Regions from separate parts of the Homo sapiens genome. Here regions 2 and 3 are each reported to be linked to region 1. The links are microRNA targets in miRTarBase. Many come from high-throughput screens and were not tested one by one. Region 1 holds a microRNA gene; each other region holds the end of a gene's coding sequence.

The links. Region 1 holds the annotated microRNA hsa-miR-3064-3p (UUGCCACACUGCAACACCUUACA, at 2,367-2,389, opposite strand). A microRNA usually pairs through its seed, bases 2 to 8, with sites in the 3' UTR of a target mRNA and lowers its output. Matches are read on the target gene's strand: a 7mer-m8 pairs with bases 2 to 8, a 7mer-A1 pairs with bases 2 to 7 and ends in A, and an 8mer does both.
Region 2: the mRNA of ARK2N is a reported target of hsa-miR-3064-3p. Seed matches in the 3' UTR shown: 7mer-m8 at 653-659 and 7mer-m8 at 1,722-1,728.
Region 3: miRTarBase lists TPK1 as a target of hsa-miR-3064-3p. Seed matches in the 3' UTR shown: 7mer-m8 at 2,049-2,055 and 7mer-m8 at 2,081-2,087.

What each region holds. Positions count from the first base shown.
Region 1 is chr17:64,498,409-64,503,673 of GRCh38, forward strand. MIR3064 (microRNA 3064) reads right to left here and starts at 2,431; the gene lies at 2,366-2,431. It overlaps DDX5 (DEAD-box helicase 5), which reads right to left. Exons shown (of 13, transcript NM_004396.5): 6 at 5,022-5,163; 7 at 4,780-4,940; 8 at 4,518-4,690; 9 at 4,031-4,141; 10 at 3,754-3,815; 11 at 3,602-3,661; 12 at 2,141-2,365; 13 at 1-1,918. The coding sequence ends at 1,515. MIR5047 (microRNA 5047) reads right to left here and starts at 2,905; the gene lies at 2,806-2,905.
Region 2 is chr18:46,262,567-46,267,687 of GRCh38, forward strand. It overlaps ARK2N (arkadia (RNF111) N-terminal like PKA signaling regulator 2N), which reads left to right. Exons shown (of 5, transcript NM_145055.5): 5 at 363-4,426. The coding sequence ends at 552. Among named protein-coding and RNA genes, the nearest start is that of ARK2C, 69 kb to the right of the region's middle.
Region 3 is chr7:144,449,132-144,454,252 of GRCh38, reverse strand. TPK1 (thiamin pyrophosphokinase 1) reads left to right here. Exons shown (of 9, transcript NM_022445.4): 9 at 590-2,312. The coding sequence ends at 708. It also overlaps the pseudogene RNU6ATAC40P. Among named protein-coding and RNA genes, the nearest start is that of NOBOX, 48 kb to the right of the region's middle.

The DNA.
Region 1 (5,265 bases):
ACGGTTAAGACATTAAACAGTAAAATATGTAATAAATGCTCCAACCTACCCTCTCCCCCGAAAGCTGCTTCTAAGTTTAAAACCATGAATTTGACTAACCATGCCATTGAAAACCATCCAGGTTACTACAGGCTGAATTAGTTTTCAATGTCTAAGTCCTAGAAATATCACTCCCTATCCCAGCCCTAGCAAATTCTAACTTTACATTTGACATAAGGCATTAACATCAATTAAAGCCTCAGTTTAATAATCAGAATTTAAATGAAGTCTCCTGAAGACCTCTCTTCTGGCAAAAAAAAACACGTATCAGACTCTGGGAAAACATTCAGACCCACTTCTAGCTATTACTGAAATAAATGATTAGAAAGTTACGTTGGTGAGCCGAAGTTAAACCTAAAGCTATCCCCTGGATCTTTCTAGCAATAAACCCATGTTGAACCTACCATGAAAACTTTCATTCACTGTGCTTTTGGTTACGTTGCCTCCTGATTAGTCATTAATTTTAATGAGGTTTTTTCCTTGTGTTGAGTATGAATAGACCTTACAGTTTGAGGATCTCTAGAATTCCCTGAATTATTGGAAAGACATTCATGACTCCCAGTGTGACTAGTTAAGAGCCCCAGGGAGCCTGTGAAGACTAGAATCTACAAGTAACCTGCACTAAGAACGAAATTCAGTAAAGGAGACTCAAGCTTAGCTCCTGGCCATCTTAAAGGGCTAATGTATGTCTTTCACAGGTTTGTTCAACATTTCAGTAATTCACAGTATAGCCAAGAGCATGAGTATAAGTCTCTTGAAAAAGCCAGTTATTTGGAGCTTTTTAAATTATAAACTTTGAAAAAGTCACCCACGTTCTCACACTATATAGATGACTTTGTATCTATTTTACTATTTTCTCATTTAACCATACTAGCAAATAAGGAAAAAGGCTATTAAATGACTCCCCTGATGCTGGAAGCTGACAAAGCTTTTATGCAATTTAGCCTGTAACTAAAAATTCACCTGTATCAATTCATTCTGACTCCTGCAATATGAATAGCTCATTATAAAGAAGGGCCTTCTGATTCCCCCTGCCTCCCAAATTAAATAAAAAGGAACAGTCATTTGTTTTCATGGAAAAAAAAAACCAAACAAAAACAAAAAAAAAACCAGACCATCTTAAGCAAAGTTTTACATGACATTATATAAAATAAAGTACAATTTCCACTTAATTCAGTCTTCAAATATTTTTTATTGGAAGGCCATGCATTGCCTTCATTTATTGTATTTCAAATCACTGTACATTTACTTTTGTGAAAACACTGCCTGCATTTTCTAGTACAAAAAAAACCTAAAAATTGTTTCAGGAATGTAGAGAAATATCCAACTTAAATAGCGAAAAAGTGCACCATAATTACTGCTGCACTGCAGTCATTTCTGCAATTCCCATGTTTCTTAAATAACTATCTTGTCAGATAACACACAATATAAAGAGCAATTATGAAAAACAGACATTTACATATACTTCTAAAGTCTTATTGGGAATATCCTGTTGGCATTGGATAACCAATCATAGGTGCAGCTGCAGTAGCAGGATATGCATATGCCTGTTGGTTCATACCATTGTGCATATTTGGAACATTACTTCCGTATTGCTGAGTGCTATCATAACCATTCTGGTAAGTCCCTGTTGGATTACCAGTCCTAAAACTGGTCTGTATACCAGCAGACACAAAATTACTTCCAAAGCTCCCATTGGTGTAATTTGCAGCACTGTAAACACCATTCTGAGTTTTTGCCCCAAAATCTCTTTTAAGCAGGCTAGAGTAACCTCTGTCATAATTTTCCCTGTCTCTAAAGGTATTAAATCCACCCCTTTTGCCCGCAGAGTATCTGTCCCGACGGTCATCCTTCATGCCTCCTCTACCCCTGGAACGACCTGTCAAGAAAACAATTGCAAATTGATCAATTATGTCTATGACACAAATCATTGTGGACAGAAAGAAACAGATCTATTCATGGTAGGCGTGAAATGTTTTTACAATTTTTCAGCTTAAGTTTTCACATTCAAGGTTTTACTCACCCTCCAATACCATTTAAATGGATTTGTAGACAACGATGTGACTCGTAACTACCAACATTTCCTATCAGTCATCCTTACCTGAACCTCTGTCTTCGACCAACTGAAGCAACTTGGGATTAATTGCTTGATTAGCTTCACGAAGCACAGAGATAAGGTCGCTCACTTGCTTTATGTTATTAGGTGTAAAGAAAGTGTATGCTGTGCCTGTTTTGGTACTGCGAGCAGTTCTTCCAATTCGATGAATATAATCCTCTGAGGAGTTAGGGTAGTCATAATTGATGACAAATTTCACATCTTCCACATCTGTAAGGTGTTGCAGTGTGGCAAAATAGCAATGTACGGAGTTTTGCACACCACAACAGCCAGACCAAAAATAAAAAGTTAGACAATTGTATTCCCAAGAAGGTACGGGCTGCAAAAAATACAGTTAAAATGGTTATCCATTTCCTGTAGGAATACCATTGAGGTTGAAAAAAGAAAAAAAAGCACATGTCATCTGTATAATTCATCACCCACCCAGTGACAGACCCTGTCAAAAGGAATGTGTGTTCCCTAAGCACATTCCCAAATCAGCAAGTTCCCTTACAGATCATCAAGTGACATCTGAATGCTTCTGCGCAGTAGGGCCACTTAAAGTTTCACAGCAACCTCTTCATGTGCTCATTTTGAGGACCTTGAAACAAAAAAATGTACAAGGTCCTTTGCATTACACATTCATCAGAAGTTCAAAATTCTGGCCACACTGCTTGTCTTGCCAAGACCTTACAACCGCAGCTGCAAGAAAACATACCTGTCCCCCAAAAGTTGTTTTTATGCACTGTGTCTCGTCTAGGCAAGCGCTTCCAAGAAGCCAGGATTCACTTGAGAATGTGTCTCTCTCTGGCAGGTCTCGACATGACGACTACTGTGTAGGTGAGGGAGGAACTTTCAAAGCACTTTCTTTTCCCACTTACTATGTGTGAGAAGTTGCTCCTGCTCTAGATCTCATGTGCCAGTACTCACCAATTTGTAAAAGGCTTAGTACCTTTTAAAGCTGCTCTCTCCATTTCAAACTTGAACAAAAATTTCATTGAACATTGAAGTTTGGAACTACTTCTTCGACATTTCAGCAAACTCACTGAAACTCAAAGACCCACAGATCACAGTGAACAGTTTGAAACAAGGCTGTACCATGGCAGTCATGCAAAGCATGGGACAGAAGAAATACCACGGCAGTGAACTGTGAGGATAACTTCCATTTTTTCCCTCGGAGAGAACAGTTTACGGGGCAGAGGTGATATGTTCTGCCTTTTGAAGATTACTGGCACACGTTCAGCTTTTTCACCTCTCTAATCGACTGGAAGCAGCCAGCCGATCACTAGTCCTCCATCCCCCTCGAGTCCTCCGATTGTCATGCCTAGGCCTTGCCACAAAGACAGCACCTTTATGTGAAAAAAAACTTAGAAAAAATGCAGGTTAAAGAAAGCAATAAACTTTCTTTAAAAAAGTTAAATGGAGATCTTCTGGGAAACCAAGCCATGAATGCGAGTTTGTACTAACCTAGCCCTCTGGAGGCCACATCTGTAGCAATCAGAATAGGAGCTTTTCCATGTTTGAATTCTACAAAGGAAGGCATATACATGATCAATTATCTGAGCAGAATTCTAGCTAGGTTAAGTAAGGGGGAAAAATACTTCATTTGAAATATTTACCATTTAGAACCCAGTCACGCTCTTGTTGACTCTTGTCACCATGGATACCCATGGCAGGCCACCTAAGTTAAAAGACAAGTTGTGTTATTAAACTCACATTGAAAACCTCAGACTCCAGTGCTTGACCACTTTTGGTCACAGATCTCTTTAATTTCGCCAGAAATGAAAAAGTTAAATTCACTATCAGATATGAAAAAAATCCACTGCTCGTGATCCAAGTTTGCCCTTTCCTAAGCTGTTTTAATCAATCTGCTTCAATGGAGGAGCTCACACATACCCATCTCTCCTCATTTTTCTGGTAAGCTCATCACATCTTCTTTTGGTTTCCACAAAAACAATGGTTTTATTCTCCTTCTCACTCATGATCTCTTCCATTAGACGAATAAGTCTAATAATAGGAGAGAGAAAGGAAAAATCCTGAGTTTTAAAAGACCATTGCTAGGGCCACACATTTATGGTCAGCAAAACATTAAGTTCAATTTACATGGCTGGAAGTCAAAGAGGAAACGCCTGCTAATCCACTTATCGAGCAGTTCGACCCTTGGTCCTTAAGTCAACCAGGGGACACATGAATTCCTTCTATAGGAAAGCTATAAATGGTGACAGCCATTATTTGAAGGATTCAAGAAATTTTCAGGATTAGTAGGCTAACTAAATGAAATCACACCAACTGAAATAACCTAAAACAACTCACCAAACAATGATCCCTCAATTTTACAGCAAAGTTGTTAGGAAGCAAATATAACAGAGTTAATAAAACTTACTTTTCATCCTTTTCTACGTCATGACACACATCCACAATCTGAAGAATGTTGTGGTTTGCACTCAGTTCAAGTGCACCAATGTTTATATGAATATAGTCTTTCAGGAAATCTTCAGCAAGCTGTCTTACTTCTTTTGGCCAAGTCGCACTCCACATTAGAGTTTGCCTATCAGGCTAATGGATTTTGGGGGGAAAAATTAGTATCAGACTCTTAAGAGTGAAAACACAATTCAGTTTGATCACATATTTCAAAGGACACTTACTCTTATTTGATCCACAATCTTCCTTATTTGGGGTTCAAAGCCCATATCAAGCATTCTATCTGCTTCATCAAGGACAAGGTAGGTTGTTCTTCTCAGATTGGTTTTTCCACACTCTAAAAAGTCAATCAGTCTTCCAGGTGTTGCAATACAGATTTCCACACCTTTAATTAAATACGTAAGTGTAACTACAATACCTAGGATATTTAGCACCAATGACAAATAAAACCCTTTTCATTACATACCTCTCTCCAAATCACGTATTTGTGGTCCCTTAGGAGCACCACCGTAGATACAAGTAGACTTCAAGCGACATGCTCTACAATATTCAGCAGCTACTTGCTGCACCTGTTGGGCCAGTTCCCGAGTTGGTGCCAGCACCAAACACTAAGGAAAGAGAAACAGCTTTCAGCACAAACCTGGATACTAGTTTTAAACTGCTAACTTATTATACTAGCAGATCCTTTCTTCATGTGTTGTCCAATACCC
Region 2 (5,121 bases), not on the chromosome of region 1:
TTTGGGCATCTTAACTTTGTTCTGGATTTATGTGTTGCCCTATCATGAAGATCCCAGAGGTGTAAATGAGTCCAGAGAAACATCCTGTCACCCATGGTCAGTGACACAACTCAGGAGTTTCTGGCTGAGATAAGACCCTTGGCCTTTTTAAGGCTAAACTGAGAGAGGGACCAAGTGGGGTGTGGTGGGGTAGGGAGAGAGGGAGACAGAGATGGAGGGAAGGATATTGATTGTGGGTTTTATGAACTTGCATACTAGGTTTATCTTAGTAAAAATGTTGATAAGTACAACTGAGGTCATATTGTCTTCTGTTTTTCCTGTGGTGGAATTAACCATGCTTTTGTTCTTCATCTCAATTGCAGGTGTGTTCATCCTCGAGGTGGTGTGATTCAGAGTGTTTCTTCATGGAAGCATGGCTCGGGCACGCAGTATGTTAGCACCAGGCAAACACAGTCATGGACTGCTGTGACTCCCCAGCAGACTTGGGCTTCACCAGCAGAAGTTGTTGACCTTACCTTGGATGAGGATAGCAGGCGTAAATACCTACTGTAATACAATGTCACTGTGTTTCCTCTGCACTGTTCCCTTCCACTTCCTCATCCTCTTTGTGACATGGAAGTTCATTGTCATAGCTTCAGCTTCAGAAGCTGTTTGTGGCATTTGTAGGATTCAAACTCATGGAAAATTCCCTCCTCTTCCCCCCTTTTTTTAATTAAAAGAAGTCACTTAGGAAAATAACATCACAGAGAAAAGAATTTCTTCTTTCCCTCAGTAGGAATATAGAATGATGAATTTTATTAGACAACTTTATTTTACTTGGTGACTTTTAATCTTAGGAAACTCTGCCTTCCTTTTAGAATAATATTTTAATTGCCAGGCAAAATGGGTTTCAGTTTTTGAATCTTGTATTTATTTTTCTGTATAATGAAATTAATATCTAGACTTGACCACTATCTGCCCACCCCATTGGCACTCCCATCTTAGGGCATTCGCACACATATCAGTCAGGTCCTTATTGGCACCTAGTAGGGCATGTGCATTTAAAAACTTGTCCTTAAAAATAGAAGACAGAAGTATTAAAATTATATTTTCTTTTATTTTAAGTCTTCTGCCTTCTTTCTTGAGTTTGCTCCTGTTGACTTCCCACAGCACAGATAATTGACATGTCCCTTTGTGTTTATAAATACTACTAAGGTGACCTAGTTGTTCTCCTTGTTGCAATAATTAATAACTCTTTGCAAAATGTCTCCTTTGAGACAGAGGCATTTCAGATAGATACCCACCATGAGGTGTTCTGGGCATCTGAAGGTATTAAGAGTTCAGTGGGAAAAATCTCTCTCCCTCGCCTTTTTTTCTGGTTTAGTCAAATAACGGGTGAACATAGAAACCTGTTGGGAAGAATATGAAAAGTTATGTGGCCTCTGAGGCTACAGGCACTTGCAAATCCGAGAGGAAAGTGCCGTCTTTCATAGCTGGTCTCTGTATAAAGAGTATGTAGCAACAACTGTTTAACATCCGAGATGAAGTGGACCTGATGCTGTATTTGGGTATTTTTCTCCTCTACCTTCTAAAAAAAAATACCATAAGAAGAATCAGAATGTACCATAAGAAATCAGATGCAAAGCACGTTAATGTCATTGGTAAGTTTTACAGAGTCTAAAAGGATTAGCAAAGGGTAGCAGGAGCTTCAGGGAATTCAGGAAATGCCAGCATTGGAATTTTGTGGCATTAGTTACTACCTTCTTTCTTATAATATGTTGTAGTTACTAGTGAATTCTTTTAAAAGCAATACCTAGAGTTAGAACACTATGTACTCTGCACAGGGGGAGTGAAGTAATATTGGCTTAGAAGACTTCACCTTTTGTTTTTCATGGTTTTTGTTTGTTTTGTTTTTGTTTTTGTTTCCATTGTTACCGTTGCTATGGCCCTTTGCCTGTCTCTCCAAATCCCCTGGTGGCTCTTCTTATCATTAAGAGTATGAGAATTACCATTTTCAGTTTTCATTCAGCAAACAAATTTACCAAGTGCCTGCTCTGCATAAGGCACTGTGAGGGGTGGGTGCTCTGGGGGCTGCTGAGATGAATGACACACACCGCACATACACATGCATCAGTGTCTGCCTGCCTCCACCTGCCCAGCCTGTTCTTCTTCTTCTTCTTCATCTTCTTCTTTTTTTTTTTTTTTTGTAAAGACAAGTTTATTCCTTTACGCTTCTTGTTGCATTAGTTCTCCTGTATGTTCCTTCTTCCACAGGAATGTATTTGTGCATATGTTCTTTGATCTTCTCTGATAGCATCTCATTTGATCTGGCCTCTGTCCTTCATCAGCTTTTATTTTTTTTATTTTTATTTTCTGCTTTTGTTAGATAAGGCTTTTAAGATCATGAACCTCCAGCTTTAGCAACTCATATATCAGTCTCTCACATGGCCACAATTCTAGACAAAAACCAAAGACCCAGAGGCCAGAGCAAAGTAGGACCTTCTGAAGATTCACTACTGGTGTATCCTTGGACCTTCACATTTTACTTTAGGATTAATTTATTGAATTTTACTGTTACACATAGTTTTTGACTTGAATTAAAATACTAGACAAAGCAGAAATGTACAATTTCTGGTCTGTGTTTTCCAGGAAATTCATAGAGAAGAGAATAGAGTGGATGATGTGACTTGAAGTTTTTGCAGCTTATTTTTTCCCCCACTGTCAGGGCAGAGGCCCATTTTAATGAATGTTTTTGCATGACCTGTTCTTATGTTAACCACATATTTTTTTTCCCAATTCCACACAGCAGGTGATTTCCCGTGTGACATATTTTCTTCATAGTCCCTAATATAGTCATCCTCTACAGAGTTGGCGTGCTGTGTGCACTGTGGATTAGGAACAGAGTGGAGCTGTAACCAGTCTCTTCTCTGGCCCTTTGCCTTTATGTCAGCTTGCACTTTTGCCTCACTTATTCCTAGTCCAGCTCCCAACTGCCTGACTTAATGGACCAGAACGGAGATTTGGATATTAAGATGCAGAGGGGGAGGGGAAGGGATGGTAGAGATAGACAGCTCTCCCCTACTAGGTTGGGTCATTTCCCCTAATAACTATAGAGAGACTGTGTTTCAACTCTCTTTTCATTGCTGTTTCCAGAAGAGTGGAGAGTGTGGTTTCAGGCAAGGTATTAATGATACAATTCCGTGGTATACAGCTCCTGTGACATTTGAAGTTTCTTTTAAAGGGGTTTTTCTTAATCAAAGTTTTACATTTGGTAGCATAAGTAGTTCTTTATGCTTCACAGGACATTGTCTTCAGAGTAATCTCTCTGCTAAAATGGTACATGTGGGTCACAGATTGGTTTATGCCACTGACTTGGTTAAGTTTCCACCCCCTCCAATTTGTGAAAAACAGAGCAGTGACCTAGCTGTTGCATCATCATGACTGCCATGTAACCTGTAATTGCTGCTCTCCAGTAATTGTCTTTTCATTTTGATGGTAGGGGCCAGACTGAATGAATAATGCATTCTTTTTTATTCAATTTATTTCATTCAGTTTATTCTTGGCAATCAAACATCCCATAAACTTTGCTTTTATTATCAATTATGAATATGAATTGTCTGGTTTACTAATGTAGTCATTTGTTCATCTTTACTTTTAGCAGATTAGCACCATAACTAACTTAAAACTAAGTTTGTTACCTGCTTTTTATACTGTCACAAAGGTTTTTGAAAAAGCTGGGGACACTATTTTGTCTTTTAGTTTTAAACTTTTTTAAGGCAAAGCAAGCTCCCCAATCCCTGTTCTCCAATATGTGTATGATGTGACTTCCATGTAGATATAAAAATGATTGTGCCCTAACCAAACTTCCTCAGATTGTGCACTGTTTGTTTAAAATAATCACGTATTTTAGTCTGATGCTGTTGTATTTTTTCATTTTATTTAAAACACTACTTACTTCTTATTCTCTTAACAAATTTTAAAAGGTAGTGATCTTAAAAAAAAATCACTGGATAACTAGGAAATATTTTTGTTGTTGTTTTGTTTCTTAAAGAGTACAGAGGCCATTGAAGCCTTTTGCTCCTCTTACCGTGAAAATGAAATGTTAGCCATTGTATGGCTAGGAACCAATGCACTTGGCAGTTAATGGATCTGCTGTTGCTGGAGTGTGAGCGTGGACTTGATGCAGTGATGACAAATCATTGCTTAGAATTAATGTTTTCAAATGTGCAACTCTAGTTTTTAAAACAAAATTTGGTTCTTTACATTCATTATTTCGTTTTTGTTTCCCTTTAGTATTTAATGGTCTTTGGAGAAAAAATAATAAAACAGAGTGTTATATATATATTTTTTGGTGCAAGATAAGATTTTCTGTTTTTTGAAATAAGTCTGTAGCATAAAGGTTAAACTATTTTAAGACAAAATAAAATAGAGTGTATTTAAACAATGATATCTTCTGAGGTTTTTTTTTTTTTTTCTTTGTCCCTATCTGCTTCAGTTAATTAGGTGGTACCTGGAGCAATTTCCAAGTTACCTTTTAAATGTGAAAGTGGATTCTATTTTGTTAACAAGTCTTATCTTTATAAGATGTCTGAGTTTTCAAAGCAAGAGCTGTATCCTTGCAAGGTTACTTGCAAAACTACTCCCAAGAAGTTTTGCAAGTAACCTTGGATAATTGTTGGATGTTGATAAAAATAGCTTTGCATTAGCTTTCCTGTAACCCCACCTGAGATTTCAAAGAGGGCCAAAGACTTATTGTTCTGGGCACCTTTACTCCTGGCAACAAAACTTCACTGCTGGTTATTACTTTGCAGAGATCAGAGAGTCAAGGTAAGATGCTGCAACGGCATGCACTTTGCATGTGGTTAAACATTGAAGCAGGTATAGGGTGTTTGAAAAATAGACTGAATAATTTTTTCCATAGTTTGGTTCTATTTTCAGATTTTTAATTTGGTTATTAAAATGATAGGAACTACCATATTAACACCTCATGATGTTTGTAACTTATCTTCACATAAAGGGGAATGAGGAACCAGGGAGAGTGAAACCTCTTTTTATTAAAACATTCAACTCCTGAATCTCTTAGTTTTCCTCAAGAATTTTTGGTTCTGCTTGTACTGGAAAATGATCTGTTAACAATTAGGA
Region 3 (5,121 bases), not on the chromosome of region 1:
TGGCTGAGCTTAAGTGACTTGCTCAAGATTACACATTTGAAAGTCGGCTTTGACCTTTGAGTTTCTATTAATTTTACAGAATGTAAGCTGTATTCACTTTGGCTTTTCTTACTTTATGAGAAAACAGTAACCAAAATCACATGCATTTTTTTAGGTAATTTTCTATCTGTCTCATATCATTTCTACTTGAAGCTAAAACTACATTCTGTAGAGTGTAATAACATATTAAATTTTAATTCTGAATTATCAAGAGAAACTAAAATTGTACCCAGGGAAGGAAGTAAGTAGCACATTACAAATACAGGTTTTGGTTTTATAATTAGTAAAGAAAAAGAAAAGATTCTAATAAAATTTAATATTGAGAATGATATATAACCCAAAATGGTCAATAACCAATTCCAGGAAGAATGTTTACAGCAAGTTATAGAACTTACCCATTTTAAAGCCATACATCATATATTTCACCTATCCCACATTTATATATATTTTTATCAAAGTGTGTACTTGCTTTTTGGTAAGTGACAAAGTTAATCTACACTGGAGGAAGAAAAAAAATAGTTACTAATTTTTTTCCCTTATTTTCTTACAGCAAATGATGTGCTTGCTTTTGGAACATTGGTCAGTACTTCCAATACCTACGACGGGTCTGGTGTTGTGACTGTGGAAACTGACCACCCACTCCTCTGGACCATGGCCATCAAAAGCTAACCTGTTGACTGGCATCCATAAGTGTGCCTCTGCCTTATCTCATTTCTCAACAGTTCATTGCTCAACAAGAACGATTCACCTGGGTTTGCAAGAATCTAAACCTCTCTAGGGGAAGCCCACTGGGTTTAAAGATGTTAGTGTTTAGATAATACAGGTAACATTATAAATGACAGATCTCAATTTTATAGTAGTGGGAAAGATACATGCTAAGAAAGCAAATAAGCTCTATTATATTCGGTTGGAACCTAATGGGAATCATTCCACTATACAATTCAGTACTGATTATTCTTCTTACATTATTAATCATTCCATTTATCCTAGAAAATTGTTTTTAATTTGAATCAGAGAAAACTGTTGAGGTTCCTCTTGGAGTCTAGAACATCCTTAAATGTCTAACAACAAGGGCTACCTCTGAGTACCTTTTAGTATTAGTTTTCTGTATATGATATATATTATCTTATACTGAAAAAAAATTCCTTTCAGATTGGGGTGTTAGAAGTGCACCAGGTCACTCTGACCTTATTACTGTCTTTGGTATTGTCTTAAATAAATCAAGAATCATTGACCTAATTGTTAAATTTAAAAATAGGTAGTTAGCAATAGGTGGAAAGAGAAATGATGTGAAAGATAAATGATGATTCGTGGAGCCCTACTCACACATTAACCCCCAAATTCAAAAGTAAGAATGCAAAAGTCTAGAGGGGGTAACAGTCTGCATCATCATCACAACCTAAATGGAGAAAGCTGTGCAGAGGAAACTTAAGCATAAAAATTGAATTCGTTTCTGACATACCTTAGACTGAAAAACTGTTGGTTCATCCAGAAGTGTATTCATATTACCAGAAAATGAGTTTGTCTATGGGGATACATGAACTTCATATACTAAGGAGCCTAACTCCAAAGCCTGCGTTCTCATCCCAGTCTGATATTCACCTAAGTTTCCGGACCCTTTTCCTTAGCTGTAAAATGGAAGCGGTTGGACTGATGGTGTCTGAGGTTCTTTCCCACACTGAAATTCTAAATATTGACACTTAGCAGTCATAGGGCTGATAATACACACAGTTACTGACTTAGCCTAAACAACCTGGTGCATCGAAATGTATTCACCTTTCTTTTGTAAAGAGACCATCTTCTATCTTCTTTCCACCTTTCTCTGTTTTATGAAACCAACTGTTGACATACAAACCATGATTGAAGGAGAACCTGTCCAACATGTTTTATGTACACAAATCCCTATGTTGCTATAAGAAAAGTGAAAGTAACTGTTTTCTTCTTGGTGCTATGACAGTGTGAGACTCAGGTTGTCTGTAGAGAATGAAAGGAGCAGTGGCCCGCGTGATTGTGGCATTTAAGGAGCAGTGGCCCATGTGACTGTGGCATTTTCGGCACTTTTCATTACTTTCTGCTTGACCGGAAGTTGAGGCTTAGCTATGTTTCCATCTTCAGTTTCTGAAGACTAGTTATATATTCCTTACTAGAAATATATTCATAATATATAAAAGAAATATATCTGTGATTTTAAAATTTTGCTACCAAAGAATGCATGTTCTGTGTGCCCTGAAAATGTTACCAGTGTTAATAAATGGATACTTATCAAAAAAGAATATAGTTTCCTGAAGCTTAGTAAATATTGGGGGACAGGGGATAAAAAAAAGCACTGAGGCTTATCTCACACCATCACCTGAGTATCAGGCTGTAGCCATTGGGGGCCCACAGAAGGGGTTCTCTTAAAACATAGGCCACCATTCCCAGTTCCTGCCAGGCTACTGAGGAGTTAGGTGCTAGTTTTAACCATATGTGTGTTGTCAGGCCCGAGGGCCTCTTCCATTCTTGTCAAGGGGAGTGCTAACCTTTCATACAGCGCTAGGTGCTGGTTTTATTACAGTCAGCCCTCTGTATCAGTGGGTTCCACATCCATACATTCAGTCAATCAATCATGGATTGAAAATATTTGTAAAGAAAAGAATGGTTGCATCTGTACTGAACACAGACAGACATTTTTCTTGTCATTATTTCCTAAACGATACAGTACAACAACTGTTTACTTAGCATTTATATTGTATTGGGGATTTTAAGTAATCTAAAGATGATGTAACATATACGGGAGGATGTACATAGGTTATATGCAAATACCACATCATTTTATATCAGGGACTTAAGTATACCATCCACAGATTTTGGTATCTGCAGGTTGGGGGTTGGAGAAGTTGTCCTGGAACCAGTCCTTGCAGATATCAGGGGATGACTATATTTCACCCCTTCCCATTCCTTAAAACTACCTAAGTATGTTTTTCTCTTTATGTGCTATCCCACCGTGGCAGTTAAGTATTCACTTATTTTTATAACAATACAAGTCTGCAGATAGTGAGATCTCAGGTACACCCAGTGAACTATCTGAGCCCCCCTGGGAAGTCCCTCTTCTCTTACTCCTGTTCAGTTCAGATCCTGACCTCCAGCTTGTAGCCATAAAAGAGACTGCAGGTTGGGCCCTGCTGGGAAAGTGACAGGTGCTCCTTGACCTTCTGACTCCAGTCACTTTCTTATTTCTATGGGTCGGATTTGTAGCATTTATAAATCTAGTTATTGTCACCCCCAAATGTCATCTGTCTACCTAAATCACTGATTAGTGAAAACATGCTATGATCTCACTTCTCTTTAGAAAGCAGGGAAAATCTGAAAATCACTGCAGCTATTGCAACCTGGTTGGAGTCACACATGACCATGACATGTAATAAGTTATATGTGTGGTTCAAGGAATTGGGACTAGGGGGGCATGGGTGAGCATCACTCAGAGCAAAGAAGCGGTGGACACAGACTGGGGCATTCATACAGGTAAATGCTCAAACTTTTGTGTCACACTTCTATGTGTGTGGAATGCATTTTGCGTTCTGCTTCCGTGTGTGGCACAGACCTTGCCTACTACTGCTGCTCAGACTTTTTCCACAGCTTTACTTGAACTGTGAAAATAAAGCAGCACATAGATCTGGCCTGATTGCGACTGATGGTATGTGCCAAGTCAGTACGCAGCAAGAAACTGTTCTTCTCTTCTCCAAGGCTCTGTGATTTTGAGAGGGGTATGGTCAGAATGGTGACTTTCAGACTATATTTACCATGGCCCACTAGAAATACATCTGGTATACCTTGTGATCCAGTCCATAGACACACACAAACACAATAAAACATGCGTGTACTCCAGTAATTTTATTGTCAATTGAAAAACATCCAGAAATATATTCTAGATTGGAAAAAGAGTGCCTAAGGGCAGAGCAAAATGCATAAAGGTACCTTTTTTAAAAAGTGTGTGTATTTATGCAAGTGTTCTGCATTGAACATTCATTTTTTTTCATAAATTTAGGACAATAGGAGTGTAATTTTAAAAAATACTTCCCATCAAATAATTAAGATATCCCATTATTAAAGTATTTTAAAAATCTGTTTCAGAATTTATATGATTTCAATAAATTATTGAAAACTGGCATATTTGAGCGAGAATGTATCTGGAGATATTTCAACTTATTTGCCTCATAATTTAACCAAGGTCACACAGAACATTTTTCTACTCCTATTCTCGGTGTTTGTTTCACTGCCTTTATCACCAAACTAATAATAGTTTTTATTCTTACATGTGTGTTAAGAAGAATGATCTACCAATGACAGCAGGTTGAATTTGATCCTATTTGGGAATAAAACAGTCAACACAACTCTCTTAGGAAATGGGCAGGGGTATTAGATTATTTAAATTGTCTTTAGAGCAGTCTATTCAACATAAAATGAATTATCCTTATACCTGCGGAGATTAAAATCGAAGCTACAAGGTCAAGCCTTTCTTGGGAGTCACATACAGATTCGAAAATTCCTGGCATGTAAAGTACAAGTTTACCCTTCCTTGCCCACAGCAGATTTCACTTATCAATCATAATTTTCTTTTCTGATGATCCCCAGCCTAAGCCTCAGAATCTATCTCAAAACAATTCTCCAGGCAGCCTTGATCAATTAGCCTCCATTGGGATGGCATCCCTGGAGGCTCAGAGCGTGCAGAAAACAGCTCTGGGTACAACCCAGGAAAGAGGTCCTGGCAACATCACTCCTCTTCACAGGTCATGGGAAGTAAATAGATCCATGGACTGTTCTCTAAGTATTTCATTCTACCACCGAAAGCAAGGACTTTGTACACAACAAATAAAAACTAATTCCATCCCTGCAGATAACTTGAAAAATGTAAGCAAGGCCCCGAGAGCGCTCACAGTTGAAAAGTAGGAAATTTCTCACAATGGACCCATAGCTGGTGCCCGAGAACCAAGAAATCTGAGATGTATACAGAGTCCAGAGGTAGAAAAGTGTTTTTAACTAATAGTCAAAGGAACTGATAAATGTAGGATGGCAAATCATACCATAACCCTTATATTTTTAAAA